Linked DNA regions of Homo sapiens. The protein of the gene in region 1 interacts with the protein of each later gene in a pairwise test. Each region holds a gene or a part of one and is shown in the gene's direction. Other genes may lie near its edges.

Region 1 (7,025 bases):
TTCATCATCCCAAGTTTAAGGAACAAGAAAGTCAGTCTGAATTTGTGAAAGTTTTTTTCTGCAAAAGAATTTTTTTCCTGATTATAATTGCAATTCATGCTCACTGCAGAAAACCTGAAAATATAAAAAATCAAGAAGAAAAATAAGCCATAGTCCCACAACCCAGGGATTAATAACCTGAAATTTTGGTGAATTTCCTTCTTTTCTCTGAATACATTTATTTTATATATTGTGTGTAATCTTGTGCATATTGCTCTATAGTGGATTATGACCATTCTCAGAGAATAGCACATTTTTATTTACTTTAGAGACACAGTAGAACTTTTATTTTTTTATTATTTTTTTGAGACGGAGTCTTGCTCTGTCACCCAGGCTGGAGCGCAGTGGCACCATCTTGGCTCACTGCAACCTCTGTCTCCCGGGTTCAAGCAATTCTCTTGCCTCAGCCTCCCAAGTAGCTGGGATTACAGGGATGCGCCACCACGCCTGGCTAATTTTTTTGTATTTTTAGTAGAGACGGTGTTTCACCATATTGGTCAGGCTGGTCTCGAATTCCTGACCTTGTGATCCGCCCTCCTCGGCCTCCCAAAGTGCTGGGATTACAGGACAGTAGAACATTTTTAAGAAAAGGTAATTTTATGGAAGTACATACTAAAACATTGGTGACAAGTAAAAGAGACTTCAGTACCATAGGTTTGCATGAATTTAAATGTCTTTAGTCAGGGCGTACATTCTGTAATTCACTACAAATACTATTGCTTCCTGTTCTTGAATACCACTTCACCATTCGTTTTCTTCTCCTGGCCAGTGACGGCATTTAAATTTGCGCTTCATATGTCAAACAAAAGGAAAAATTATTGCAAAAAATATTGCAGATCACTAAGAAAACAAACAGTGAAGTGGTATTCAATAATAGGAAGCTATAGGATCAGTGGTGAATTGTAGAATGAATGCCCTACCTAAAGATATTCAAATTCAGCTTAAAAAAAAACATGATAATAGCCAAACAAAACATGTGGCTCACAAGCTACTTAATTGTGAGCCCTGATTGAAAGCATTTATCCATTCCTACTTTATCCCTGACCCTGTGTTAGGTGTTACAGGTGGGACAGATCAATAAGCAGGGAGCCCGCAAATATATAAATAAAGCTCACTTTATTTAGAAAGGCAAGATATGTTAGTGGCTCTCAGTGGAACAAAAGTTCAGGCATCTAAGTTAACATTTCCATTGCTTACAAGCCCCACTTGATAAATTCCCTGTGGAACTCAGCTATATCCTGGCTAAGTGCTTTTATTGATCTGTTTATAATAATTCTCTACCTCCCCAAAAACATTTTAAATGGTTTCTGTCATTTCTTTGGTAGCAGTCACAACTTGTAAAGAATATACTTTAATTGCATTTCTATTGTCCAAGAAGGTGGCAATATTGTCCAAGAAGGTGCTTGAACATGGCTATATATTGTCTGTGGCTGCTTTTGTGCTACAACAGCAGAGTTGAGTAGTTGCAACAGAGATCCTATAGCTCTCAAGCCTAAAATATTTATCTGACCCTTTACAGAAAAGCTTTTCTGATCCCTCCTCTAGATTATTGTTACCTGTTTTGAAATATGTATAAATGGAATCAAACAGTTAACTTACATTTAAGTGAAAATGTGTAATAAGCAATAGAAATGCAAAAACCCATGACTATGCATCTAACAACAGAGCCTCAAAATACATGCAGCAAAAACAGACAGAACTGGGGAGAAAAATAGACAATTTAATAATAATGGTTGAAGACTTCAATATCCTACCTTCAGTGATGAACAGAACAACTAGATGAAAGATCCAGTATCCCACTCTCAGTAATGAATAGAACAACTAGATAGAAGATCAAATATCCCACTTTCAGTAATGCATAGAACAATTAGACAGATCAGCAAGGAAATATAAGACTTGAATCACGCTATAAACCAACTAGACCTAACAGGTATCTGTAGAACACCATTCAATAACATGAGAATGCCTATTCTTCTCTAGTGCGTATAGAACATTATTCAGGATAGAACATATATTAGACCATAAAATAAATCTCAATAAATTTATAGAGATTGATTTCATACAGAGTATGTTCTCCACCTACATGGAATGAAATTAGTAGTCAATAACAAGGAAATTTGGTAAATTTACAAATATGTAGAAATAACACACTCTTAACCAATGAGTCACAGAAGAAATTACAAAGGAAATTAGAAAATGCTTTGAGATAAATGAAAACAAAAACAACATACTAAAACTTAGATGCTGGCAAAGCAGTACTCAGAGGTTACTGTATGAATTTAGTACTCATATGAATTTATACTAATATACATTACATTGAAAAGAAGATCTCAAATCAGTAACCTAGCATTTCATCTTAAGAAACTAGAAAAAGAAGAGCAAACTAAAACATATTTATAAACTCCTTTATGCACAGCCCTGTGTTGGGTATAGACACAAGCTAGCAGAAGAAAGGAAAATTAAAGATTATAGCAGAGATAAAACAGAGAATAAAGAAACTACAGAGAGAACTGATGAGACCAAAAGTTGGCTCCTTGAAAAGACCAACAAAATTGACAAACCTTTAGCTAGGTTGACTGGCCTAGAAAAGAAGATTCAGATTACTAAAATCAGAAATGAAAGTGAGGACATTACTACCAACCTTGCAGAAATAAAAGAGATTATAAGAGAACACTATGAGCAATTGCATGCCAGCATCCCTGTGTGACTTCAGAATGTGAATGTGTGCCTGCAGAAACAACATACTCTCCAATCCCAACACAGTTTATACATCATCAAATAACCACATGAAAGGAAAGAGATTTGAGTCTCAGAAATGGCTTTGAGCTCCCTGCCTGGTTTGTATTTGGCTTACTTTTCTGGTGTCTAGGGATAGGCCAGTAGGAGGGTTAATGGAATCTTAAGTCATGCCAAATATAAAGATCATAAAGTCTATGTTTCCGTTGTCAGTGGGGTGGTACATCAGAAGGCTGACTGGGACAGCATCCATGAGAAAATATGTCAGCTCTTGATTCCACTGCGCACTTCCATGCCCTTCTACAATTCAGAGGAAGAACGGCAGCATGGCCTGCAGCAGCTGCAGCAGCGGCAGGTAGGGCCTACGGCACTTTCCAAGGTTAAGTCGTAGGTGCGGTGAAGCTGCCCAAGACAAGGCTCGAACTGTGTTGGGATCACTAAATTGTAACCTCACGGAGGGCAGAGACTTTGTTTTATATCTTTTTAAGTCCTCAACACCATCCAGTCTGTTGTTTTCCACATTTACTAAATACTTACTGTATTAGTCTGCTAGCACTGTCACAATCAAATATCACAAACTGGGTGGCTCAAACAGCATACATTTATTTCCTCACAGCTCTGGAGGCTGGGAAGTCCAAGATCAAGGGGTCAGCAGGTTTGGTTTCTTCTGAGGCCTCTCTTCCTGGCTTTCAGATGGCTGCCTTCCTACAGTGTCTTCACATGGTCCTTTGTGTGCAAGCATGCCTGGTATCTCTTTGTGTGTCCAATTTCCTCTTTTTATAAAGACACAAGTCAGATTAGGTTAGGGCCCACCCTAATGGCCTCATTCTAACTTAATCACCACTCTACAGGCCCTAGCTCCAATTATAGTCATGTGACAGACTGCAGGATAGGGCTTCAACACATGAATTTTGGCAGGGGACACAGTTCAGCCCATAACATCCACAGATGCCAAGAGTCTGGCCACATAATAGGAGGGTTAAGAATGATGTATGGATATACTACTGAATAAATAAAGGAGGTTACCAAAACCTGCCACTATTATTATGTATAGTGTTGAGTATTATTGAGTATTGAGCATCTCAATCACTCTAAAAAATTAGCCCCTTATTATAAGCCATAAATCTCTAAACATAAGATCCATCCATTTTAGTGTTATGACACTTTGATAGTGGCCTTAGAACAATGCAGAGTTAAAGTTTTTTGTGATATTAGCTAAACAGGATAATTCTGGAAGGGAAAATGAGATGTTTCTCTCAAAATTAACTCAACTAGGAAGGCAGAAAGTTTCAGATTGTCCTGAGACATGCTAGCTTTGCTAAAGTAAAGTTTTATTAGAACTGTAAAAACAATACTCATTTATTCATCTGATAACTCTATATTGAGCATTCATCTATGCCAAGCGCTGAACTAAGATGAAAATACACATGTTCCTGGGCCTTAAGGAACTCATAGTCCAGAGTTTGCTTTCTTATATCACTTATGTGGGGCTTCACGTCCACTCTAATACAGGCAGGCTCACTATGTGCCTTTAACTGGGTCATTAGGTGTTGGCCTTATCCCCAGGGCCATCTACATCCACCTTTGCCTTTAACTTTAGACTGTCTCAGATAGTCTGTTTCTCTCTTCCACAGAAGTATTTGATTGAATTCTGCTACACCATAGCCCAGAAATACCTCTTTGAAGGGAAACACGAAGATGCTGTACCAGCAGCTTTGCAGTCCCTTCGCTTCCGTGTGAAGCTGTATGGCCTGAGCTCCGTAGAGCTTGTGCCTGCTTACCTGCTGTTGGCCGAGGCCAGCCTTGGTGAGTGAAACCGACTTGAGATCCTTGGATCCCTTAAGTGGTGTTATGTTTGGGTCACACCAATGATCAAAGAGTCACCCTTGACAGTGGCACCAAGAGACCTATTGTAGAAGGAGCAGGGTTGCTGTAAAGTTTAGCACAAGGTAGGGAAGGAGATGTCACAGACTTTTGTCTACAACTGGCAGAAATCCACTCAAGCTGGCCTGCACAAAAAGGAGGAACTTTGTGCGGGTGCTGTAGTATCCTACAGGAGCTGAGGCTTCATGAGGGACTAGAATTGGAGTGCCTTTCGTTCTCTCTTGGGCCTTGTCTCCTGTATCTACTTCTCTCTGGGTATCTATCTGCTTTGCTATTTTCCCTCTCTGCAGACCAGATTTGTCTACCCTATGCTCACTGTAGAAGACAGCTACCCCAAAATGTCAGATGGAGTTTTTCAGTTTACGTGTTTTCTAGGTTTGAAGTAGGCAGTAGAAACTAATTAGCTTCTGATTTCCAAATACAAATTCGTAGAAGACAGAATTTTGTTGACATGGCTTGAGTGTGGAATCCACCTTTATTCCCTGGGATCAGAGCCACATAGTTCAGAAATACAGGAACCCACCCCTATAGATGGGAGAGGCAATTCTGAGAGTATAGAGCAGACTTAGCAGATACCCTACATGGTGGCCACCATTTAAAAAAATGCTTCATATGTTTTAATAGCCACCATTAAAAAAATACTTTTTTAAAAGTAAAACTTTTTTAAAAGTAAAACTGTTAAAATTAAGTACAATATAAAGAACTTTTATCCCCTGAGTTCTCTGAGAGTAAGTTGTTCACCTGATTCCCTATCCTTAGAATACTTCAGTGTCCCCTTAGTAAATGAGATATATTGTATTGTGGTTATGAAGGAGAATGTCTTTGTGGGAACCACACAAGGGGACCCTGTCATCTAAGAAGACCCCATTCAAGTTTCTCGAATTTTCCCAATAACATCTTTATAGCAAAAGGATACAGTTCAGGGTCACACTTTTCATTTTGTTGCCATGTGTTGGCAACAAAACTCTGGAATAGTTTCTCAACCTTTTCTTGACTTTTATGATCTTGACACTTTTACAGGTTACAGGCCAATTGTATAAAACATTTCTCAATTTGAGTTTGTCTGATATTTCCTAATGATGGGACTCACGTTATGGATTTTTGGCAAAAACAGTACAGAGGTGATGCTGTGTTCTCATCCCATCCTATAAACTGGCATGTTTTCATTTTTTTCATTACTGATGATGTTCATTTTAATTACTTTATTAGGATGGCGTCTGCCAGTCTTCCTCCCTGTAATGTTACTCTTTCACCCTTCTGTAATTAATAACTTTAATTTTCATTTCATGGATACGTCCTTTGAAACTATATAAATATCCCATTCCTCATCGAATTTTCAATGTATTCATTTAGTTATTTGTATCAGTATTTTATCTTTATTCAATGGGCTTAAATCCATTACTATCGTTAATTTGATCCTCAAACTGTCCCTGATTTGACCAGTGACAAACCCCACTCAAGCTGGCTTCTGCATCTCCCAGATACAACCCCATTTGTTCTTTGCTCACTTGACTGCTTTCTGGAACATACCTCTAAAGAGCCCTGATCTCTTTCAGTGGAAAGTGAAAATCAGAAGCCAAAAGCTGTGCACTAGATGTACTCATGCTTTTGGGGTATTACTGCTCCCAGGCCTTCTCAGTGGAGTTAGGGAGTAAGTGTAAATATAATAATGGGTGTACGTATACACACATTACATCTGTATTTATTTCTATATCTATATATCTTTTTTTTTTTTTTGAGACCGAGTCTCACTCTGTCACCCAGGCTAGAGTGCAGTGGCGCAATCTGAGCTCACTGCAGCCTCCACCTCCCTGGTTCAAGCAATTCTCCTGCCTCAGCCTCCCGAGTAGCTGGGACAACAGGTGTGTGCCACCACGCCTGGCTCATTTTTGTATTTGTAGTAGAGACGGGGTTTCACCATGTTTGTGATCTTGAACTCCTGTCCTCAAGTGATCCACCTGCTTCAGCTTCCCAAAGTGCTGGGATTACAGGTATGAGCCACCGTGTCTGGCCTGTATCTATATATCTACATCAATATCTCTATGACCACTAGTCTATACTGTTTGATCCAGATCTAATACAGCACCATAGGGTTCAATCTGATTTACTTCCATTCCTTAATTGCAACTCCCTTTGCTGACAGCTTTCACTTTCATTGGTTTATTTACATATTAATGAGTTCCCCTGTATGAATCAATCCCCGCTCTCTAACTCCGTCCTTTCCACCTTATAGATACCTCTTCCCGCTCCATGGGCCCTGACTCCCCATTCCAGGCTGCCTCTGCTGCATGGATCCCTCCTCACTTGTGTGGGTTCCAACTCCCCATAACAGGCTGTTTGCCTGCAGGAATGCCCTGCTCACCCTG
Region 2 (6,394 bases), about 10 Mb from region 1:
AAGTAACTAGCTCAAGACTGCACAGTTAGAGAAACAGCAGAGTTAGGACTTGAACTCAGCACTAGTTTCGGCCAGTGGCTCTTCCAGTGGAAAGGAGTAAGAAGAAACAGAACAGGATGGAAGAGAAGAGAAATAGGAGAATGAAGTGACCCAGGTAGGAGCCTGTCGTGCTCTGCCTGCCTGCAGAACAAAGTTCAAACTCCTTCACCTGGTACGCAAAGGTCTCCTTGATCCAGCTTCTCTTCTGTTAACCCATTCCTGGATCCCCTGCATTCTATGCTCTGAAAGGGAAAATGATGTCAGATTCAGGGCTGGGTTCTCAGTACCAGGCATGGCCCAGGAAGGTGTTGATGAAAATTGATGAACTGAGTTTCTTGAAATTGTCCTTCACTTTCCTGCCTCCAGGCCTTTACCCACAATGCTTCCTCCCCAAAGGGAATGCCCTTTCTCTTGCTCATGGACATTCTAGAGCTAACTAGCCCCATTGGCAAGGACTGCGTCTAGAATCTTTGTATCCCTCACAAATCAGGTACGTGGGATGTGGCAGTAACTGGTTTCTAAATTTTTTTTTTTTTTTTGAGATGGAGTCTCACTCTGTCACCTAGGCTGGAGTGCAGTGGTGCGATCTCAGCTCACTGCAAGCTCCACCTCCTGGGTTCACACCATTCTCCTGCCTCAGCCTCCCGAGTAGCTGGGACTACAGGTTCCCGCCACCACGCCTGGCTAATTTTTTTGTATTTTTAGTAGAGACGGGGTTTCACCATGTTAGCCAGGATGGTCTTCATCTCCTGACCTCATGATCCACCTGCCTCGGCCTCCCAAAGTGCTGGGATTATAGGCGTGATCCATCATGCCCAGCCTAATTTTTTTTAGAGACAGGATCTCACTCTGTTGCTCAGGCTGGAGTGCAGTGGTGTGACCTTGGCTCATTGCAGCGTCAAACTCCTGGGCTCAAGCAATCTTCCTGCCTCAGGCTCCCCGGTAGCTAGGACTACAAGCACACGCCACCATACCTGGTTTTTTTGTTTTGTTTTGTTTTTAGAGATGGGATCTTGCTGTTTTCCATGCTGGTCTTGAACTCCTGGGCTCAAGTGATCCTCCTGCCTCAGCCTCCCAAAGTGCTGGGATTACAGGCCTGAGCCACCATGCCTGGCCTATTTTTTTTTTTTTTTTAAGGAAAGGAGGGTTGAGAAGAGAGGAGAAGGAAGTGGGAGAGATGGAAAAAAAGGAAGAATGAGAAGGATTCACTATTTGGGGGCTGGCAGAGTCCAAAGAGACCAGCTGATGCCTTTTTTTTTTAAACCAGTGAGGAAATAGGCCCTTTTAGTAAGCCTCCTACATGGGGACTGCCTGGGAGAGCATTTTATGTGGAAACTGAGAAGGGTATCCCTTTTGGGTGACGTGGAATTTTAAGGTGCTCTAGGGAAAGCTTGGACTTCTCTACCCTATGAGGATTAGAGGAGGGTGTTGAATCAATTGTCCTTAGATCTCAGGGGACAGGAGACTGAACCTGACCTTTAGGTTACACTCCCCCCGTAACAAAATTGGAAAGTAGAATATACGGGCTCATTAAAGCCAAATTGGAAAGTAGGAAATAGTTGTTTAGCTTAAATACTAGCACCTCCAGGCAGGCTTCCTGTCATGGGCCCCTCCGAGGGCAGATCTTAGGTCATGTGGTCTCAGGATGCTGAGGAGTGTGCTAGACTCTCATTGGGGGACCTTGGGTAAGTCTCAAAGGCTCAGTTCACTCATCTGTAAAATAGGAAGTTAAACCAACGTCTTTCTTTCTCTCTCTTTTTTTTTTTTTTTTGGATAGAGTCTTGCTCTGTTGCCCAGGCTGGAGTGCAGTGGCATGATCTCAGCTCACTGCAACCTCTGCCTCCTGGGTTCAAGGAATTCTCCTGCCTCAGCCTCCCGAGTGGCTGGGATTACAGGTGCGTACCACCACACCCAGCTAATTTTTGTATTTTTAGTAGAGACGGGGTTTCGCCATGTTGGCCAGGCTGGTCTCGAACTCCTGACCTTGTGATCCACCTGCCTCGGTCTCCCAAAGTGCTGGGATTACAGGCGTGAGCCACCGCGCCTGGCAAGCCACCATTTTTCAAATGGCCTCTTCCCCAATCTTTTTATGATCACTTCAGTCCTGGGAGAAACCAAGGCTCAGGATGGACTGGGGCAGCTCCAAACCCTTCCAATAAGGAAGGTCCCAGGCACCTAGGGCCACAAAGAGCAAGTCGCAGAACTTTGTCGCAGAACTTCTCGCTCGAGAGGATTAAAATGGGTCTGGTCGGGTGCCTGTAGTCCCAGCTACTTGGGAGGCTGAGGCAGGAGAATTGTTTGAACCTGGGAGGCAGAGGTTGCAGTGAACAGAGATCATGCCACTGCAGTCCAGCCTGGGAAACAGAGCGAGACTCCATCTCATAGATAGATAGATAGATAGATAGATAGATAGATAGATAGATAGATAGATGATAGATAGATAAGATAGATAGATAGCCTGGTGTGGGTGGCCTATGGCTGTATTCTATGTTACTTGTCGGTCCACCTCTTCCTCCTGTTCCCCGCTTCTGTGGGTTGCCAGGGTCCAGCACAGTGATGTGAATTTCACCGGAGAATCACCAGAGGGTTAGAGAGATGGACCAGGGCAGGGCCCAAGGGAAAGGCTGCCCAGGAGGGGTCAGGACCAGCAAGATACGAGAGGAGTGAAGTGGCGTAGGTTGAAAGGCGGAAGGGCGGGCCCCTAAGGCTGGGTCCAAACGAGGAGGCTGCGGAAGGGAAAGTGTTATTGGACTGGGCAGAGCAGCTGGTGGGCCCGACGGATAGACATACACTGCCAGCCCGGAGTGGAAAGAACAGTTTGTGCTGTGCTTTATTAAAATGTGCATCATTCTTTTATTTTAAAATGTGCATCATTGTCTCGTGCTCGGCGCATGCGACCTCAGCGTGGTGGCCCGCTGGGGGCCTCGTTCCCGCCCAGCTCCCGCGGAGCCGCAGGGAGCAGGCGCACTCACGTGGCGCGGGCCCGGGGGCTCCCGCCCATGGCGAGGTAGACGTCGATGGGCACGTGCAGCAGCGTCAGGCAGTGGCATCCAGGGCAGCGACGAAGCGGCCTGGGGAAATTGACGCGCGACAGGGGCCGCTGAGGCAGGGGCTTGGCCCATCCTGTGGGGCGCACCCAGGGAGTGCACCTGGGGTCCCCGGGGGTCCGGACGTGGATGCGGGGTCCTGACTGCTGGGGGCGCCAAGTGGGACGGAGGGCGGGGCCGCGGGACGGGCGGAGGCGGGGGTGGGGCGCGGGCCTTACCTGACCGGGTTGTGCTCCGTCGCTACCGCCTCCGGGCTGTCCTGGGACTCGGGGGCGGCGGCAAGGCCACGGGAGTCTCCGGCCTCAATGGGGAATCTCCGACCCTGCGGGGGCTCCTGGGCGCTCATGTCCAAGCCCCGGGGCGCTCTGCGCGGGGAGTGGCGGTCAGGCCTCTCCCGGGTCGCCGGGCGCCGCCGCCTCGCGCCCGCCCCCTGGGCCGTCGCTCACCTCCCGGCGGTTGAGACCGGTCCCAGGCTAGAAGCAGCTGCCGGAGCCCTGGCCGCGGGAGAACGCTCCGGTCCAGGCGGAGCCGGGCAGGTCTCTGTGGCGTGCCCGGGCCCGGGCGTCGAGGAGGGCAGCATTGTGACCCGGGCCGCGGCGCGCTGACCTCACAGAGCACGTTCCTCCCACTGGAGAACCCCCAACGGTGCCCCCTGCCGCCCCTGGCACTCAGCGCGGGCCAGAATCGGGGACTGGAGGCCTCTGGCCATGGCGCCTGGAGACGGGGTCGCGCAGACCCCGGACACCCGAGGGGGGCGCAGCAGGCCAGGGCAACCCGCCGCGAGGCGGCGTCCACGCCGAGGAGCCGCGCATTCCCGGTCCACACAGACGCGGCGGAGCGCCCTCCCAGGCGGGACTACAACTCAATGCCTGGCACGGGGGCGGGCTCGGCGGTGACTTAATCCGGGCTGAGTTTGGTGGTGGTAGTGAGGGCAGGTAGGGGCACTGCCCATTTTGGCCAAGGGTCACACAGCATCTACATCACAATTGCACCGGAGTTTAAAAATGTCTGGCCCTGTCCCTCCCCACCACCCGCCGCTGTGTCCAGACAGAGAATGTTCTAACGCTGGGGGCGGCTGCGGATGAAGTCCTTGGGGAGAAAAGGAGCAGGCCAAGGGCGATGGTGGAGTAGAGCTGCCTCTCAGAGGCAGCATGAGCTGAGAGGGTGATAGGAAGGCGGCGCTAGACAGCATGGAGGACTTTCTGCTCTCCAATGGGTACCAGCTGGGCAAGACCATTGGGGAAGGGACCTACTCAAAAGTCAAAGAAGCATTTTCCAAAAAACACCAAAGAAAAGTGGCAATTAAAGTTATAGACAAGATGGGAGGGCCAGAAGGTGAGCCGGGGCCCCTTTGGAGGGAAGGAGGGAGGACTGGCTGAGGTGGGTGGGTGCTTCCTCCTGTTTGTTAGAACGATCATTCGATCATTCCCTGCTCCCGCTGGCCTGGAACCAAGCAAGCCCGATGGCAGCTCTGGAGTGGGTCAGTGGGGAACAGAGGGGTTCTGGGAGTCCAGGAACATTACACCCCCCCAGAATGCAAGATGAAAGTGGCATGAGGTGAAGGATCCTCAGAGGCAAAACCTGAGCCAGGCTTTCCTTTCCGGCAGGGGAACAGAGACTGGCAGAGGCCACAACCAGGGCTGGTAGAGAACAGGGGCTGGTGCCAAGGCCCGTGGAGATGGGAAAAAGGAAGACAGGGCTCATGGAAAGAATTGTGGGGTCAGGGGACAGTGGCGGGAGGAGCTGGCTCACCACCCTGTGGACAAATCAGGCCTTATAATTTGTGATTCTGTGGCTTTGTCTAAAAGTCCCTAAAGCACCTTGATATCCAGTCTCACAGACTGCTCACAACAGTCCACAAGGCTGGTGGGGAGTGCTTCTTTTGAATGATATACTAACGACAAAAATAATAGAAGTGAACATTCTTTGCAATGTCCAAGCAGCTAGACACACTTAAGACCATTAAGAAAGCCAAGAAATAAGACCCAGACAAGGTGGGCAGAAGTTGGAAGGCAGGAGACAGGTGTGAGGAGGTGGGCCTTTCTGATCTGCCAGCCCATCTCTCCTCCCCTTACTTCCTCAGAGTTTATCCAGAGATTCCTCCCTCGGGAGCTCCAAATCGTCCGTACCCTGGACCACAAGAACATCATCCAGGTGTATGAGATGCTGGAGTCTGCCGACGGGAAAATCTGCCTGGTGATGGAGCTCGCTGAGGGAGGGGATGTCTTTGACTGCGTGCTGAATGGGGGGCCACTGCCTGAAAGCCGGGCCAAGGCCCTCTTCCGTCAGATGGTTGAGGCCATCCGCTACTGCCATGGCTGTGGTGTGGCCCACCGGGACCTCAAATGTGAGAACGCCTTGTTGCAGGGCTTCAACCTGAAGCTGACTGACTTTGGCTTTGCCAAGGTGTTGCCCAAGTCACACCGGGAGCTGAGCCAGACCTTCTGCGGCAGTACAGCCTATGCTGCCCCCGAGGTGCTGCAGGGCATTCCCCACGATAGCAAAAAAGGTGATGTCTGGAGCATGGGTGTGGTCCTGTATGTCATGCTCTGTGCCAGCCTACCTTTTGACGACACAGACATCCCCAAGATGCTGTGGCAGCAGCAGAAGGGGGTGTCCTTCCCCACTCATCTGAGCATCTCGGCCGATTGCCAGGACCTGCTCAAGAGGCTCCTGGAACCCGATATGATCCTCCGGCCTTCAATTGAAGAAGTTAGTTGGCATCCATGGCTAGCAAGCACTTGATAAAAGCAATGGCAAGTGCTCTCCAATAAAGTAGGGGGAGAAAGCAAACCCAAAAACCCGCTTCTAAAATGGTGATATATATTTTACGCTTTAAGTTTACTTATCCTAAAACTTACCTACATCTACCCCAGCCTTACTACTACTCTTTCCTTTTAGAGATCTTCATGGAATCAAAGGGCCTCATTCAGACTTCCTTTTTTTTTTTTAAGAGTCTTGCTCTGTCGCCCAGGCTGGAATGCAGTGGCACGATTCCAGTTCACTGCAACTCTGCTTCCCAGGTTCAAGCGATTCTCCTGCCTCAGCCTCCCCAGTAGCTGGGATTACAGGCACCTCCCACCACGCCTGGCTATTTCTGTATTTTTAGTAGAGATGGGGTTTCACCATGTTGGCCAGGCTGGTCTGGAACTCCTGACCTTAGTGATCCACCCACCTTGGCCTCCCAAAATGTTGGGATTACAGGCATGAGCCACTGCGCCTGGCATGACAAGTGATTTTCATACTAAAGTTAATTAAAATAGACCCAAGAATCATATACAAACAGGGGGAAGAGAGGATAAAAATGA
Region 3 (7,490 bases), on another chromosome or scaffold:
GTCCCAGCTACTCAGGAGACTGAGGCAGGAGAATCCCTTGAACCCAGGAGGCAGAGGTTGCAGTGAACTGAGACCATGCCACTGCACTCCACGCTGGGTGACAGAGCGAAACTCTGCCTCCAAAAAACAAAACAAAACAAAAAACAAATAGGCGGGGCACGGTGGTTCACGTCTGTAATCCTTGCACTTTGGGAGACCGAGGCGGGCAGATTATTTGAGGTCAGGAGTGTGAGACCAGCCTGACCAACATGGTGAAACCCTGTATCTACTAAAAATACAAAAATTAGCCGAGTGTGGTGGCAGGCGCCTATAATCCCAGCTACTCGGGAGGCTGAGGCAGGAGAATGTCTTGAACTCGGGAGGTGGAGGTTGCAGTGAGCCGAGATTGTGCCACTGCACTCCAGCCTGGGTGCGAACGAGTGAGACTCAGTCTCAAATAAATAAATAAATAAATAAATAAATAAATAAATAAATAAAAGAGCCTGCGCGATGGCTCATGCCTGTAATCCCAGCACTTTGGGAGGCCAAGGCAGGCAGATCATGAGGTCAGGAGTTCGAGACCAGCCTGACCAACATGGTGAAACCCCGTCTCTACTAAAAACACAAAAATCAGCCACAAGTGGTGGCACGTACCTGTAATCCCATGTACTCGGGAGGCTGAGACAGGAGAATCACTTGAACCCGGGAGGCGGAGGTTGCAGTGAGCCGAGATCGAGCCACTGTACTCCAGCCTGGCAACAAAGCGACACTCCGTCTCAAAAAAAAAAAAAAAAAAAAAAGAGATTTCAGGTCAGGAGAGCAGAAGAACCAGTTCTTGCTCCAGCTCTGCTGTGGACAGTTCACTGTCTGGGCCTGGGTTCGCCGGTCCGCAAGACAGGGCTAGCGGTGGATGCTGTTATGGGGAGTGGGCCCCTTTGATTAGTTGTTTCCCAAGACTGCAAAGAAGGGAGGGAGACAGCAGTTGATGAGGATGGTAACAAAAACCAAAAAAAGTTACCATTTAAAGGCTTGGCCTGTTTGCCCGATGCTGCTAAATGCTGTTGTGGGGATTTTATCAATTAACCCCCATTTACCAGATGAGGAACTTGAGGCCCAGGGAACCCAAATGGCTTGCTCAGGGTTACACAGCTGGTGAGCTGCAGTCGGGAAGGGCTGGCTCTCCAGCACGGCGCCACATTGTCTGGGCGGGCTCTGGCCATGCAGGGTGGAGCCCTGGCTCACTCTCTCTCCCTGGGGGCCAGGTTCAAGGGCAGCAGGAAAGACGAGATCCTGGGCATCGCCAACAACCGACTGATCCGCATCGACTTGGCCGTGGGCGACGTGGTCAAGACCTGGCGTTTCAGCAACATGCGCCAGTGGAATGTCAACTGGGACATCCGGCAGGTGGGCCCAGACCCAGGGTATATGGATGGGGGACAGGTGCAGGCCGGAGCTGGATCCAGCCAGGGTGGGGCAGGGGCTGCTCCCTTATCCCACCCACCATTTGCCCCTCTGTCTGCCCTTCAGGTGGCCATCGAGTTTGATGAACACATCAATGTGGCCTTCAGCTGCGTGTCTGCCAGCTGCCGAATTGTACACGAGTATATCGGGGGCTACATTTTCCTGTCGACGCGGGAGCGGGCCCGTGGGGAGGAGCTGGATGAAGACCTCTTCCTGCAGCTCACCGGGGGCCATGAGGCCTTCTGAGGGCTGTCTGATTGCCCCTGCCCTGCTCACCACCCTGTCACAGCCACTCCCAAGCCCACACCCACAGGGGCTCACTGCCCCACACCCGCTCCAGGCAGGCACCCAGCTGGGCATTTCACCTGCTGTCACTGACTTTGTGCAGGCCAAGGACCTGGCAGGGCCAGACGCTGTACCATCACCCAGGCCAGGGATGGGGGTGGGGGTCCCTGAGCTCATGTGGTGCCCCCTTTCCTTGTCTGAGTGGCTGAGGCTGATACCCCTGACCTATCTGCAGTCCCCCAGCACACAAGGAAGACCAGATGTAGCTACAGGATGATGAAACATGGTTTCAAACGAGTTCTTTCTTGTTACTTTTTAAAATTTCTTTTTTATAAATTAATATTTTATTGTTGGATCCTCCTCCTTTCTCTGGAGCTGTGCTTGGGGCTACTCTGACACTCTGTCTCTTCATCACCAGCCAAGGAAAGGGGCTTTCCTGATAAAGACAAGAGTTGGTTAGAGAAAGGGACACCTAAGTCAGTCTAGGGTTGGAAGCTAGGAGAGAGGTGAGGGCAGAAGGGCACAGCTTTCAGGAACAAGGAATAGGGGCTGGGGTGGTGGTTCTCACGGGTAGGGCGTAGCTGCAGGGCCTCCTTGAAGTACTTGGGAAGGAGGAAGCCATCAGTATTCCCTGGAGTCAGAATCACCCCATTGGCAGAGCGGAAGAAGGGTATTCCATCTGCTGACAGAGCCAGAGATGTGACTCATGCCCTCCCCGAAGGCAAGGGCAGCTCCTGCTTTGTCCAGACTCACCTGCCAGAGCCAGGGGTCCATCGATGAACACAGCTATTTCACAATGGGACCGCATGCCTGCAGAGACAGCTGGAGCTGAGGCCTGGGCACCTGGAGTGCAGTCAGCAACCTAGGCAGACTGGGGTCCTGGGCTGGGGGATGCAGGGGTGCTGCTCCATGCCGGACATGGGGTGGCCCCAGACAAGTGTTGTAACCTTTGAAGGGGACCTGGGAGGACAGAGTGGGTGGGAGTAGCTAGGTGGAGGGGAGGGCACTGACCACTGATGATACCGGGGTCTCCAGGCAGTCCTGGGGCCAGGTGAATGTGCGTCCTTCCCTGGCAGGACAGGCCTTTGAGTAGGATGGATGGCCAGTGCTTCCAGAATGTACCATGGACTAGCATCGGGGGCAGGGCCTGCGGTGTCTCCAGGGGCATCAGCTCCAACTTAGGTACCTGGTTGAACGGGTAGCAGTGAGACCCCCTTCGCAGGCAGGGGTCCCTCCCATCTCGTCTCGCACTTGTCCCCTCACCCCGACCTGCAGGGAATGGCCCTGGTTGGCCCGGATGAGAAGGCCAGTGCTGGGATCCCCCAGCTGCAGGGCGAACCGCTGCTTCCTATTGGTGTCCACCACGCGCTGCACATCTTCAGCAGAGAAGCCGCGGAACTGGGGCAACTGCAGGAGGGTGCCCAGGGGCACGAAGCCATCTGTGGGCAGGCAGGGTGCTCAGGAGCTAACCTTGCTCTGGACTGGGCCAGGGTTAACAGGGAGCCACAGGCAACCGAAACAAAGTCTGGGCTTGGAGATCGCTTGGGCATCCTCTGTGGGACCTTTAGAAAGTCTCCCCTTTCTGGGCCGCAGTTTTTTCAACTTACATAAAAAGAGGATCTGCCTCACGGAGGGGCAGGGAGGTGAGTGCCCAGCATAGCGCTGGCCCGGAGTGCACACTCACACCACCAGCTGCACCGTATCCTCCAGGGCTCGCCCTCGGGGTAAGTGCTGATCTGGCTGCTTGGCTGGAGGGGGCGGTCACCAGGCCTGGCCCAGACAAGAACTCTCCTCAGTCTGCTGTGGACATGACAGGGGCTCTAGGCCTTGCTCTCCTCTGTGCATGGGGAGGAAGTGCACTCTGTGCCTTCCTCAGGGAGCGGTGGAGGCAGCCATCAGGGAGGAGTCGCAGACAGGCTCACGTTTCTCTCTGGGCTCAAGCCCCAGCCTCCAAGGCCCCTACTTACCAGCTCCCATGGGAAGCCCCAGCTTCAAGGCCCCATGGCGCAGGGCATAGGACAGAGCCTTGGACAGCTGCACGTCTCGGTCCTGAAAGAACCCAGCGGTGGCCCCTAGTCTCCATGGTGACCCTGCCCTACTGCCCATCCTGAACCCTCAATGACCCACTGCAGAGAGAGCCCAGAGAGAAAGGAGTGCCAGTGGTCTCCAGGAATAGTAGGACCCTTCAGCTCCGCCCCCCAGCAACTCCCAGGGAGCCTGGACTGGTGGGAGGGGGTGGGGAGGAGGCGCGCACCTGTTCTCGGGGTCTGGGAGCCCTTCTACCCCTGGACCCTGCTGCTTCCTGCCTCCCTCCTCCAGAGAAGTTCATGGTTAAGACCTGTGGGGGGCAGTGACGAGGGGGGACTGCTTTAAGGCCCCTTCCACGTCCCCATCCCTCCCAGAAAGTCACAAAGCCTCAGGAAGTGAGCGCTGGGTGGGAGTATACGGCTCATTAAGTTCACCACCCCCAAGTCCCTGCTGCAGAGAGGGAAACTAAGGCCCAGCAGGCCAGACTTGCCCAAGGTCACACGGTCAGCCAGGAGCGCAGGGAGGCCGAGCCCCGCACCCCAGATCGCTGGTGCGCCCCGCAGGGTGGTCCGGGAGGCAGGGCCGACGTGCCGACGGACCGGGCGGAAGCGTCGGGGCGGCGGGGACAAACCTCCAGGATCCTCGACCGCGGCGGACCCGCCAATGAAAAGCCGCGTGGAAAGGGGGCGGGCACTTCCGCTTCGGGGAAGGGGCGGAGCCTGAGGGACCCGGCGGCTGGTGAGCGCCCGCTGGAGGCTGGAGCTTCCGGGCCCTGGAAAGGGGTCCCCGCGCGCCCCGGGTCGGAGGCAGACCCCTGGGTTTGGGGGACATGGGCATTTGGGGCGCCTGAACCCAAGACCTCTGGATGGTAGGGATGCCCGGGCGTCCTGGATACCCTGCGGGACTCGGGGCTCCTGCGGGGAAGATGGCACGTTTTACTGCCCAAGGAGTGGTCAGGGGGGTGGAGAAGCGCTGCGGATACCCTCAGGAGGTCTGCGACAGAGGGGGCTAGCTGCGCAGCCCAGGAGTGGTAGTGGCCCCCCTGGATGACAGGCCTGGCCGTATCCTCCCCCAGAGCTGCCCCGTTCAGACCATGGATCCTGAGGTGACCTTGCTGCTGCAGTGCCCTGGCGGGGGCCTGCCCCAGGAGCAGATACAGGCCGAGCTGAGCCCCGCCCATGACCGTCGCCCACTGCCAGGTGGGGACGAGGCCATCACTGCCATCTGGGAGACCCGGCTAAAGGCCCAACCCTGGCTCTTCGACGCCCCCAAGTTCCGCCTGCACTCAGCCACCCTGGCGCCTATTGGCTCTCGGGGGCCACAGCTGCTCCTGCGCCTGGGCCTTACTTCCTACCGAGACTTCCTGGGCACCAACTGGTCCAGCTCAGCTGCCTGGCTGCGACAGCAGGGTGCCACCGACTGGGGTGACACGCAGGCCTATCTGGCGGACCCACTGGGGGTGGGCGCTGCACTAGCCACAGCCGATGACTTCCTTGTCTTCCTGCGCCGCTCCCGGCAGGTGGCTGAGGCCCCTGGGCTGGTGGACGTACCTGGTGGGCACCCTGAGCCTCAGGTGAGATTCCAGGCTGGGCACAAAGACCCAGACAGCTCAAGGGAGCTGCAGCTCTCCACCCTCCCAATCCTCCCAGCTTTGGTTTCCTCATTCCTTAAAGGGAAAATTGGCCTGGTATTTCTCTGGAAGTTTGCTCAGGGCAGTCCACCTGCCTCCCCACTGACCCCTGCCCCAGTCCTGTGAGAAACTAGAAAACACGGGAGGAAAGATTGGGCACAGGAAGAAGATGCCCTACTCCACCCCTGCCCCCTGTGTATCTCCTTTGAAGCTGGACCTCTGGTTGTCTGTCAGGGAAAGGACACCAGACTCAGGATCACTAACTCTCTTACACTGTGCCACATCAGACCCTCAAGGCCAGCAGGTATAGGCTTGCTGGTCCTGAGATGGGGCAGGGGGAAGAGGTGGGGAGCAGGGGCTGAGCCTGACCTCTCACAGGCCCTGTGCCCTGGTGGCAGCCCCCAGCACCAGGACCTCGCTGGGCAGCTGGTGGTACATGAACTCTTTTCCAGTGTCCTTCAGGAGATCTGTGATGAGGTGAGTGAGGTTGACCTGGACAGGGTGGTAGACATGAAGGGAGGGGGTAGGACTTGCCAGAATTCTACAGGTCTGGGCTGGCAGGAGGCCTGCAGGCATCTGGCCAGCAATGAGGGAAGAAGTTGGCTTTGCAGCTATACATACTTGGAGTGGAATTCTAGCCCTCAGTACCCTCTGCCTTGGATTCTTCTTCTTTTCTTTTTTCTTTCTTTTTTTTTTTTTAGACAGAGTCTCGCTCTGTTGCCCAGGCTGGAATGCAGTGGCACGATCTCTGCTCACTGCAAGCTCCACCTCCCGGGTTCACGCCATTCTCCTACCTCAGCCTCCTGAGTAGCTGGGACTACAGGCATCCGCCACCATGCCTGGCTAATTTTTTTTGTATTTTTAGTAGAGATGGGGTTTCACCTTGTTAGCCAGGATGGTCTTGATCTCCTGACCTCGTGATCTGCCTGCCTCAGCCTCCAAAAGTGCTGGGATTACAGGTGTGAGCCACTGCACCAGGCCGGATTCTTCTTCTTTTTTTTTTTTTTCTTTTTGAGACAGAGTCTTGCTCTGTTGCCCAGGCTAGTGCAGTGGTGGCATATCGGCTCACTGCAACCTTCGCCTCCTGGGTTCAAGTGATTCTCATGCCTTGCCCCGCCAAGGATTCTTCTTTTCAATGGAAACAATGATAAATATCTTGCCTACTCCCCAAGTCTGTTGAAAAAGGAGTAAGTGGCCGGGCGCCGTGGCTCATGCCTGTAATCCCAGCACTTTGGGAGGCTGAGGTGGGCAGATCACAAGGTCAGGAGATCAAGACCATCCTGGCTAACACGGTGAAACCCTGACTTTACTAAAAATACCAAAAGTTAGCCGGGCGTGGTGGCGGGCACCTGTAGTCCCAGCTACTCAGGAGGCTGAGGCAGGAGAATGGCGTGAACCCGGGAGGCGGAGGTTGCAGTGAGCCGAAATCGCGCCACTGCACTTCAGCCTGGGCGACAAAGCGAGACTCCGTCTCAAAAAAAAGAAAAAGGAGTAAGTGTGGCAGGGTGTGGTGGCTCACACCTGTAATCCCAGCACTTTGGGAGGCCAAGGCCAGCGGATCACCTGAGGTCAGGAGTTCGAGACCAGCCTGGCCAACATGGAGAAACCCCATCTCTACTAAAAATACAAAAAATTAGCCAGGCGTTGTGGCGTGCACCTGTAATCCCAGCTACTCAGGAGGCTGAGGCAGGAGAATCACTTTAACCTGGGAGGCAGAGGTTGCAGTGAGCTGAGATCGTGCCACTGTACTCCAGCCTGGGCGACAGAGCGAGACTCCATCTCAAAAAAAGAAAAAAAGAAAAAGGAGTAAGTGGGAGTCCCAGTCACTAAATTGACTTCTCTTGGGTGACCTTGGGCAACGTGTTCAATCTCTCTGGTTTTGGTGTACCTGTAAAACAAACATGCCCATCATCTGACATTCTGTAATGCTGGGTCCTTGATCTACAAGCTATAAAATGCTGTACACAGGTAACAGGCGGTTTTTCATTGAGACGGGCAGGGATGTGGGCAGTGGCATTGATAGGTGGGACCTCCCCCCACCCCACCCTCCACCGCAGGTGAACCTGCCGCTGCTCACCCTGAGCCAGCCCCTGCTGTTGGGCATCGC
Region 4 (6,913 bases), on another chromosome or scaffold:
AATAAGCCCCAGCCATCCAGGCAAAGTCCAGTTACTCTGACCTGAACTGCTCACTGTGGCCGGAGGAAGGCCTGGGGTGACTGGCACAGGCCCAGTTCCTTCCAGAACCTGAAATAATCATTGTGGCAGGGAGTCGTTGATCCAAAGGAAAAAACCGAGGCAAAATCAATACAAGTAAGAGTATATTTGGGGGCTGGGCGCGGTGGCTCAGACCTGTAATCCCAGCACTTTGGGAGGCCGAGGCAGGCAGATCACCTGAGGTCTGGAGTTCGAGACCGGCCTGACCAACATGGAGAAACCCCGTCTCTACCAAAAATACAAAATTAGCTGGGCGTGATGGCGCATGCCTGTAATCCCAGCTACTTGGGAGGCTGAGACAGGAGAATCACTTGGACCCAGGAGGCGGAGGTTGCAGTGAGCCGAGATCACGCCATTGCACTCCAGCCTGGGCAACAAGAGCGAAACTCTGTCTCAAAAAAAAAAAAAAAAAAAAAGAATATATTTGGGTCAAGTTTGAGGACTGCAACCTGGGAGTATACATTCAAGTTGCCCTGAATATTCACTGTGATTAGCAACAGTTACAAGTAGGTTTTTGAAGGAAAAGAAGAGGCAGTTCCTAAATTGTTTACCAAGAATTTACATTAAAATAACATAAATTGGCTAGGTGCAGTGACTCATGCCTGTAATCCCAGCACTTTGGGAGGCCAAGGTGGGTGGATCACCTGAGGTCAGGAGTTCAAGACCAGCCTGGACAACATGGTGAAACCCTGTCTCTACTAAAAATACAAAATTAGCCGAGCATGGTGGCGGGTGCCTGTAATCCCAGCTACTTGAGAGCCTGAGGCAGGATAATTGCTTGAACCCGGCAGGCAGAGGTTGCAGTGAGCCAAGATTGAGCCATTGCACTCCAGCCTGGGCAACAAGAGCGAAACTCTGTCTCAAAAAAAAACAAAAACAAACAAACAAAAAAAAAGTAAATTGTTCTAAAGAGCTTCTGCATAGCAAAAAGAAACTATCAACAGAGTAAACAGACAATCTATAGAATGAGAGAAAATATTTGCAAACTATGCAGCTGACAAAGGACTAATATACAGAAACAATAAGGAACTTAAATGAATCAACAAGAATAAAATAATCCTATTAAAAAGTGGGCAAGGGGCCAGGCACGGTGGCTCATGCCTGTAATCCTAGCGCTTTGGGAGGCCCAGGCAGGCAGATCCCTTGAGGTCAGAAGTTTGAGACCAGCCTGGCCAACATGGTAAACCCCATCTCTACTACAAGTACAAAAATTAGCTGAGTGTGGTACCGTGTGTCTGTAATCACAGCCACTTGGGAGGCTGAGGCAGGAGAATTGCTTGAACCCAGGGGAGGAGGTTGCAGTGAGCCGAGATGGCGCCACTGCACTCCAGCCTAGGTGACAGGGCAAGACTCTGTCTCAAAAAAAACAAAGAACAAAAGACATGAACAGACACTTCTCAAAAGAAGACATACACGCATACAAGCAGCCAACAAACATGAAAAAATGCCCAACATCACTAATCATCAGAGAAATGCAAATCAAAACCACGAGGAGAAACCATTTCACATCAGTCAATGGCTATTATTATTATTATTTTTTCTGCCAGCATCTTGATTTTGGACAGAATGGCTGTTATTAAAAAGTCAAAAAATAGGAGATATTGGCAAGGCTGCAAAGAATGGGGAATACTTATACACTGTTGGTGGGAATGTAAATTAGTTCAGCCACTGTGGAAAGCAGCTTGGAGATTTCTCAAAGAACTTAAAATAGAACTACCCTTCAACCCAGCAATCCCGTTAGTGGGTACACACCCAAAAGAAAAGAAATCTTTCTACCAAAAAGCCATCTGCACTCATATGTGCATAGCAGCACTATTCACTATAGGTTAGATATGGGGTCAACTGAGGTGCCCATCAATAGTGGATTGGATAAAGAAAATGTGGTACATTTCCAACATGGAATACTATGCAGTCATGAAAAAGAATGAAATCTTGTCCTTTGCAGCAACATAGATGCAGCTGGAAGCCATTATCCTAAGTGAATTCATGCAGAAACAGAAAACCAAATATGACATGTCTCACTTCTAAGGGGGAGCTAAACCTTGGGTACCCACAGATATAAAGATGGGAACAAAAGACATTGGGGACTCCAGAAGGGTGGGGGGAGTAGGGCAAGGGCTGAAAAACTTCCTATTGGGTACTGTGCTCACTACCTGGGTAAGGAGATCAACAGAAAACCAAACCTCAGTGTCACCCAATATATCCCCTAACAAACCTGCACATGTACCCCTTGAATCTAAAATAAAAATAAAAATAATAAGTTGTTGATTGGCTACACATTTTTCTCTGTATCACAAGTTGCAGGAACATGCAGATAATGGGTGAGGCAGTGAGTCAGGAACAAAATGCCTTTAAACCATGGCCCCCACGGCCGGGTGCGGTAGCTCATGCCTGTAATCCCAGCACTTTGGGAGGCCGAGGTGAGTGGATCACTTGAGGTCAGGAGTTCAAGACTAGCCTGGCAAACATGGTGAAACCCCGTCTCTACCAAAAATACAAAAAATTAGCTGGACATGGTGGCAGGCCCCTGTAATCCCAGCTACTTGGGAGGCTGAGGCAGGAGAATTGCCTGAACCCAGGAGGTGGAGGTTGCAGTGAGCTGAGATCGCGCCATTGCACTCTCAGCCTGGGTAACAAAGCAAGACTCTAAAAACAAAAACAAAAAACAAACAAACAAACAAAAAACTATGGCCCCCCAAGCACTGCAGGGGGACCTGGACTGAAGTCCTATACTACTGTTTCTCTGGGCCTGATATATTTTGTTGTATCTAAGCTGCTTTCCTCAGATACAAATCCTTCAACAAACCCTAGGGAAAATTTCCTCTCAAGTCCCTCCAATTCTCCCAGTTCTGCCACGCTTTGTACACCCCTAACGAAAGGGGCCAGGTGCAGTAGCTCAGGCACGTAATCCCAACACTTTGAGAGGCTGAGGAGGGTGGATCACTTGAGCCCAGGAGTTCCAGACCAGCCTGGACAACATGGCAAGACTCCTGTCTCTACAAAAACTACAAAAATTAGCTGGGTATGGTGGTGCACACCTGCGGTCCCAGCTACTCGGGAAGCTGAGGCCGGAGGATCGCCTGAATCCAGGAGGTAGAGGCTGCAGTGAACCAAGTTCAAGACACTGCACTCCAGCCTGAACAGAGCGAGACCCCTGTCTCAAAAAAGTAAAATTAAAAATGGGGCCCGGCGCAGTGGCTCACGCCTGTAATTTCAACACTTTGGGAGGTGGAGGCGGGAGGATCGTTTGAGGTTGGGAGTTCGAGACCAGCCTGGCCAACATGGTGAAACCCGGTCTCCACTAAAAATACAAAACTTAGCCGGGCTTGGCGGCGCACGTCTGTAATCCCATCTACTATGAAGGCTGAGGTGGGAGGATCGCTTGAACTCGGGAGGTTGAAGCTGCAGTAAGCCGAGATCGCGCCACTGCACTCCAGCCTGGGCGACAGCGCGAGACTCCGTCTCAAAATAAATAAATAAATACATACATACATAAAGTAAAATAATGAATAAATAAAATAAGAAATGGGGAAATGGATCAGCAAGAAAGTGCCCGCCCCAGGCATGGGTGCCGTGCGGGACGGGGACGCGGCCCAGCCGGGAATCGGGGTGCCCAGGGTGCGATGTGCGAGGGGCTCCTGAGCGCGTGTGCTCCGCCCGACCCCGCCCTGTCCCCCCGACACACAGGTGGACCCAGGGTCAGCTCGTGCACCTGGGAAATGGCTCCCGCCGGGTAGCAGGGGCGGAGGGGCGGGGCTGGGCGGAGGGGCGGGGGGGCGGGGCCTGCCCGGGAGCCACGTCCGGGGAGGGGCCAGGTGAGCGGCAGACCCGGCACGCAGGTGGGGGCCGGCGGGGTCCGTGGCCAGGTAAGGCGGGCGGCGGCGGGAGGGAGCGCGCAGGGAGGAGGCCGTGCTCGGGGTGGGGGGGTGCGCCGCGGGGGCTCCCAGGGCGTGTACGGGGACAAGGGGCCGCTGGCCGGGTAGGGACGCCCAGGCGGGCGCGACGCCACGTGCGGCCGGGGGGAGACCCTCCGGCCGGCGCGCAGCCTCCGGGTCCCCTGTGGGTTCTAGACTCCCTCTCCCTTCACCTCCTTTCTTTCCCGCCCCCCCACACTCCCCTCCTCTGCTTTTTCCCCTGTCCTGTTCCTTCTCACCCCGCACCGCCTTCCCCGCCCTCGCCTCTCTCAGCCTGCGTTTTGGTCTGGTCTGGCCGGACGGTGTCAGCTCAAATGTTCCTTTTTTGCTTCCGTCCTGGGGTCTCAGGTTAGGTCGGGTCAGCGCCTGGGGGAGGCACCTCCCCCGCCCCCACACACCCCAAACCTACAAGGTGGGTGAGGTCATTCCCGTTTCATAGATGAGAAAACGGAGGCCGGGGCAGGTGCTGCGCTGATTCAAACTCAGGGGGTGGGGGGCTGGCCGGTTCAACACACAGCGGTGGAACCCCCCGGGAGTTAAAAGCAGAAACTTTTTTTTTTTTTTTTGACACCGAGTCTTGCTCTGTCCCCAGGCTGGATTGCAGTGTTGCATCTCTGCTCACTGCAACCTCCGCCTCCTGGGTTCAAGCGATTCTTGTGCCTCAGCCTCCCGAGTAGCTGGGATTACAGGGACTGACACCATGCCAGCTAATTTTTTGTATTTTTAGTACAGACAGGGTTTCACCATGTTGTCCAGGCTGGTCTCGACCACCTGACCTCAGGTGATCCGTCTTCCTGGGCCTCCCAAAGTGCTGGGATTACAGTCGTGAGACACCGCGCCCGGCCTAAAAGCCCAAAGTTTAAACCAATCCGCTAGCAGCCTCGGAGGTCGTCAGGAAGGCAGGGAGGCCCTGCCTTTCACTTTCCCTCAATCCTGTGGGGGGTGGGGGGGCTCCTGAGAATCCCTCGGGCTCTGCCACACCCTGACTTGGAAATTTCTCCGCTGCCTTGGGAGGAGTGTGAAGGCCCCGGAGAAGGAACCGCAGAGTCCACCCGGGAAGGAGGGTGGGATTGTTTGGCGGGATGGGGACAGCACCTTGGCCACCGACTTCAGGGTTTTGTGACAGAGGCTGTGTAGATTCCAGAGAGCTCTGTGCCGTCCCTCGCTTGCCTGTGAAATGCAGTGTTGGCATTTGTCCAGCTGAGAACTCAATGCTTAAGACTCAGCCGTTTCAGAAGTCGATGTCCTTTGGTTGGCCTCTCTGTTGGCAGCTTTAGGATCATGTTTGTGGACTCCTCATTCGATTCACTGACTAACCATTCCCCAAACCAACGCCAGAGTTGGGGGTAGGGCGAAGAGGGACATGGGATGTGGGCCTGAGCCCAGCTGATTCTTGTGGACAGCCAGCTGCCTGGTCCCTGCCCTCAGGGGCCCAGAGTCTGGCTTCTGTGTAGAGAGAATCCAAGGGTTTGTGGGAGCTTAGGAAGGGCTTCCTGGAGGAGGTGGCCATTGAGCTGGAAGGTGGATGGGAGGTGGATGGGGAAGAGAATGGCACCTACTGGCTAGGGATACTTCGCTTGTGAGGTACGGGTGGAAAAGTCCATGGAGTGCCTGACGGGGTGGGCCAATTTACTTGGATAACATCATTGGGTCATTGAAACTTTGTGTGTGTGTGTGTGTGTGTGTGTGTGTGTGTGTGACGCAGTTTTCGCTCTTGTCGCCCAGGCTGGAGTGCAATGGCACGATCTCAGCTCACTGCAACCTCTGCCTCCTTGGTTCAAGTGCTTCTCGTGCCTCAGCATCCAGAGTAGCTAGGATTACAGGCGCCCACCACCACACCCAGCTAATTTTTGTATTTTTAGTAGAAGTGGGGTTTCACCATGTTAGGCAGGCTGGTCTCAAACTCCTGACCTCAGACGATTTGTCTGCCTTGGCCTTCCAAAGTGCTTGGAGTGCTGGGATTACAGGCATGAGCCACCACACCCGGCCGAGTCATTGAAACTTACTTGACTTAAACATGCCTGGGACATCATGCCATCTGCCTAACAAGCCAGTTCTAGGCTGAGCTATTCATGGGCACACTGTAAACGATGGAGTTAAAGGCGGCTTCGGTTAAAGAGACGAGAGCAAGGAACTCAGGTCCTGGAGGTGCCTGACAGTATGTTTCACCACATTAAAAAAAACCCATCCCATTCCCTGATTTTACCCTCATTTCACTGATAGGGAAACTGAGGCACAGGCAGCATGAGGGTGAGAAAGAGATGGAGAAGGAGTCAGCAGACCTGGTTTTTAGGCAGGTCACTCTCCTTCTGGGGCACTCAGCCTCCTCATCTGCAAAAGGAGCTATTGGCTGTCCTTCCCCACTGCGATGGTGGTCACCAAATGGCCATGAAACCCTCACTGCACACTTGGCTGCCTGACTCCTTGCTCACATCAGGAGGCACGGACTGTTACTGCCCCGTTCACAGATGAGGAAACAGACAAGGAAGGTTAAGGTCCCATGGCTAGTGATTAGAGAGCCAGGCTTGGAAGCCAGCGGTGCTGCAGCTACAGTGTTCCCCGTGTCCCCACCTTCCTCCCACACACACTGTGCTGAGCCACCTCCCTGGGCACTGAGGTGTGCCTCCCACATGGGAGCTGGTGTCTGGTGTAAGATGGAGCCATTCGGAGCCTGCCGGTGACTACCCTTCAAATCTATGTGAAATTAGCATGGGGAGAGAAAATAGACGTTTTCCATTTCTTTCCAAATTATTTAACTTTTACCCCTTGGTCCTTTAATTAAAACTGATGCTCAAGGAAGATGCATCACGTGTGTCCAGATGCTTCCCAGGCCTCCCTGGGGTGCATTTGAGGGGAGAGCCTCTGGGCCCTGCACTGTGGGACTTAGCTGCAGGAGAGCGCGCTGCTCCGGAGTCCTGCCC

Evidence for each region.
Region 2: the proteins of ZMYND12 (region 1) and TSSK3 interact in binary tests that used the Homo sapiens proteins (3 or more experiments, as listed by UniProt).
Region 3: the proteins of ZMYND12 (region 1) and NUDT22 interact in binary tests that used the Homo sapiens proteins (3 or more experiments, as listed by UniProt).
Region 4: the proteins of ZMYND12 (region 1) and ARHGAP8 interact in binary tests that used the Homo sapiens proteins (3 or more experiments, as listed by UniProt).

Annotation. Positions count from the first base shown.
Region 1 is NC_000001.11:42,446,023-42,453,047, reverse strand, and holds part of ZMYND12 (zinc finger MYND domain-containing protein 12), read left to right. Parts: intron 1-2,988; coding exon 2,989-3,130; intron 3,131-4,409; coding exon 4,410-4,581; intron 4,582-7,025. UniProt on the Homo sapiens protein: Required for sperm flagellum function and male fertility.
Region 2 is NC_000001.11:32,358,426-32,364,819, forward strand, and holds TSSK3 (testis-specific serine/threonine-protein kinase 3), read left to right. Parts: upstream 1-4,113; 5' UTR 4,114-4,276; coding exon 4,277-4,421; intron 4,422-5,169; coding exon 5,170-5,831; 3' UTR 5,832-5,887; downstream 5,888-6,394. Other genes in the region: protein FAM229A, read right to left, coding at 3,008-3,110, 3,305-3,451, 3,533-3,666. UniProt on the Homo sapiens protein: Serine/threonine protein kinase required for spermatid development and male fertility.
Region 3 is NC_000011.10:64,221,807-64,229,296, forward strand, and holds the start of NUDT22 (uridine diphosphate glucose pyrophosphatase NUDT22), read left to right. Parts: upstream 1-4,467; 5' UTR 4,468-4,618; coding exon of another isoform or gene 4,619-4,621; exon of another isoform or gene 4,622-4,828; coding exon of another isoform or gene 4,829-4,846; coding exon 4,847-5,326; intron 5,327-5,594; coding exon of another isoform or gene 5,595-5,687; intron 5,688-5,761; coding exon 5,762-5,860; intron 5,861-7,339; exon of another isoform or gene 7,340-7,440; coding exon 7,441-7,490. Other genes in the region: FERMT3 (fermitin family homolog 3 long isoform), read left to right, coding at 1,242-1,383, 1,507-1,686; TRPT1 (tRNA 2'-phosphotransferase 1), read right to left, coding at 2,070-2,161, 2,294-2,404, 2,479-2,535, 2,737-2,911, 2,989-3,164, 3,693-3,774, 3,980-4,054. UniProt on the Homo sapiens protein: Hydrolyzes UDP-glucose to glucose 1-phosphate and UMP and UDP-galactose to galactose 1-phosphate and UMP. Preferred substrate is UDP-glucose.
Region 4 is NC_000022.11:44,748,684-44,755,596, forward strand, and holds the start of ARHGAP8 (rho GTPase-activating protein 8), read left to right. Parts: upstream 1-3,891; 5' UTR 3,892-3,944; intron 3,945-6,913.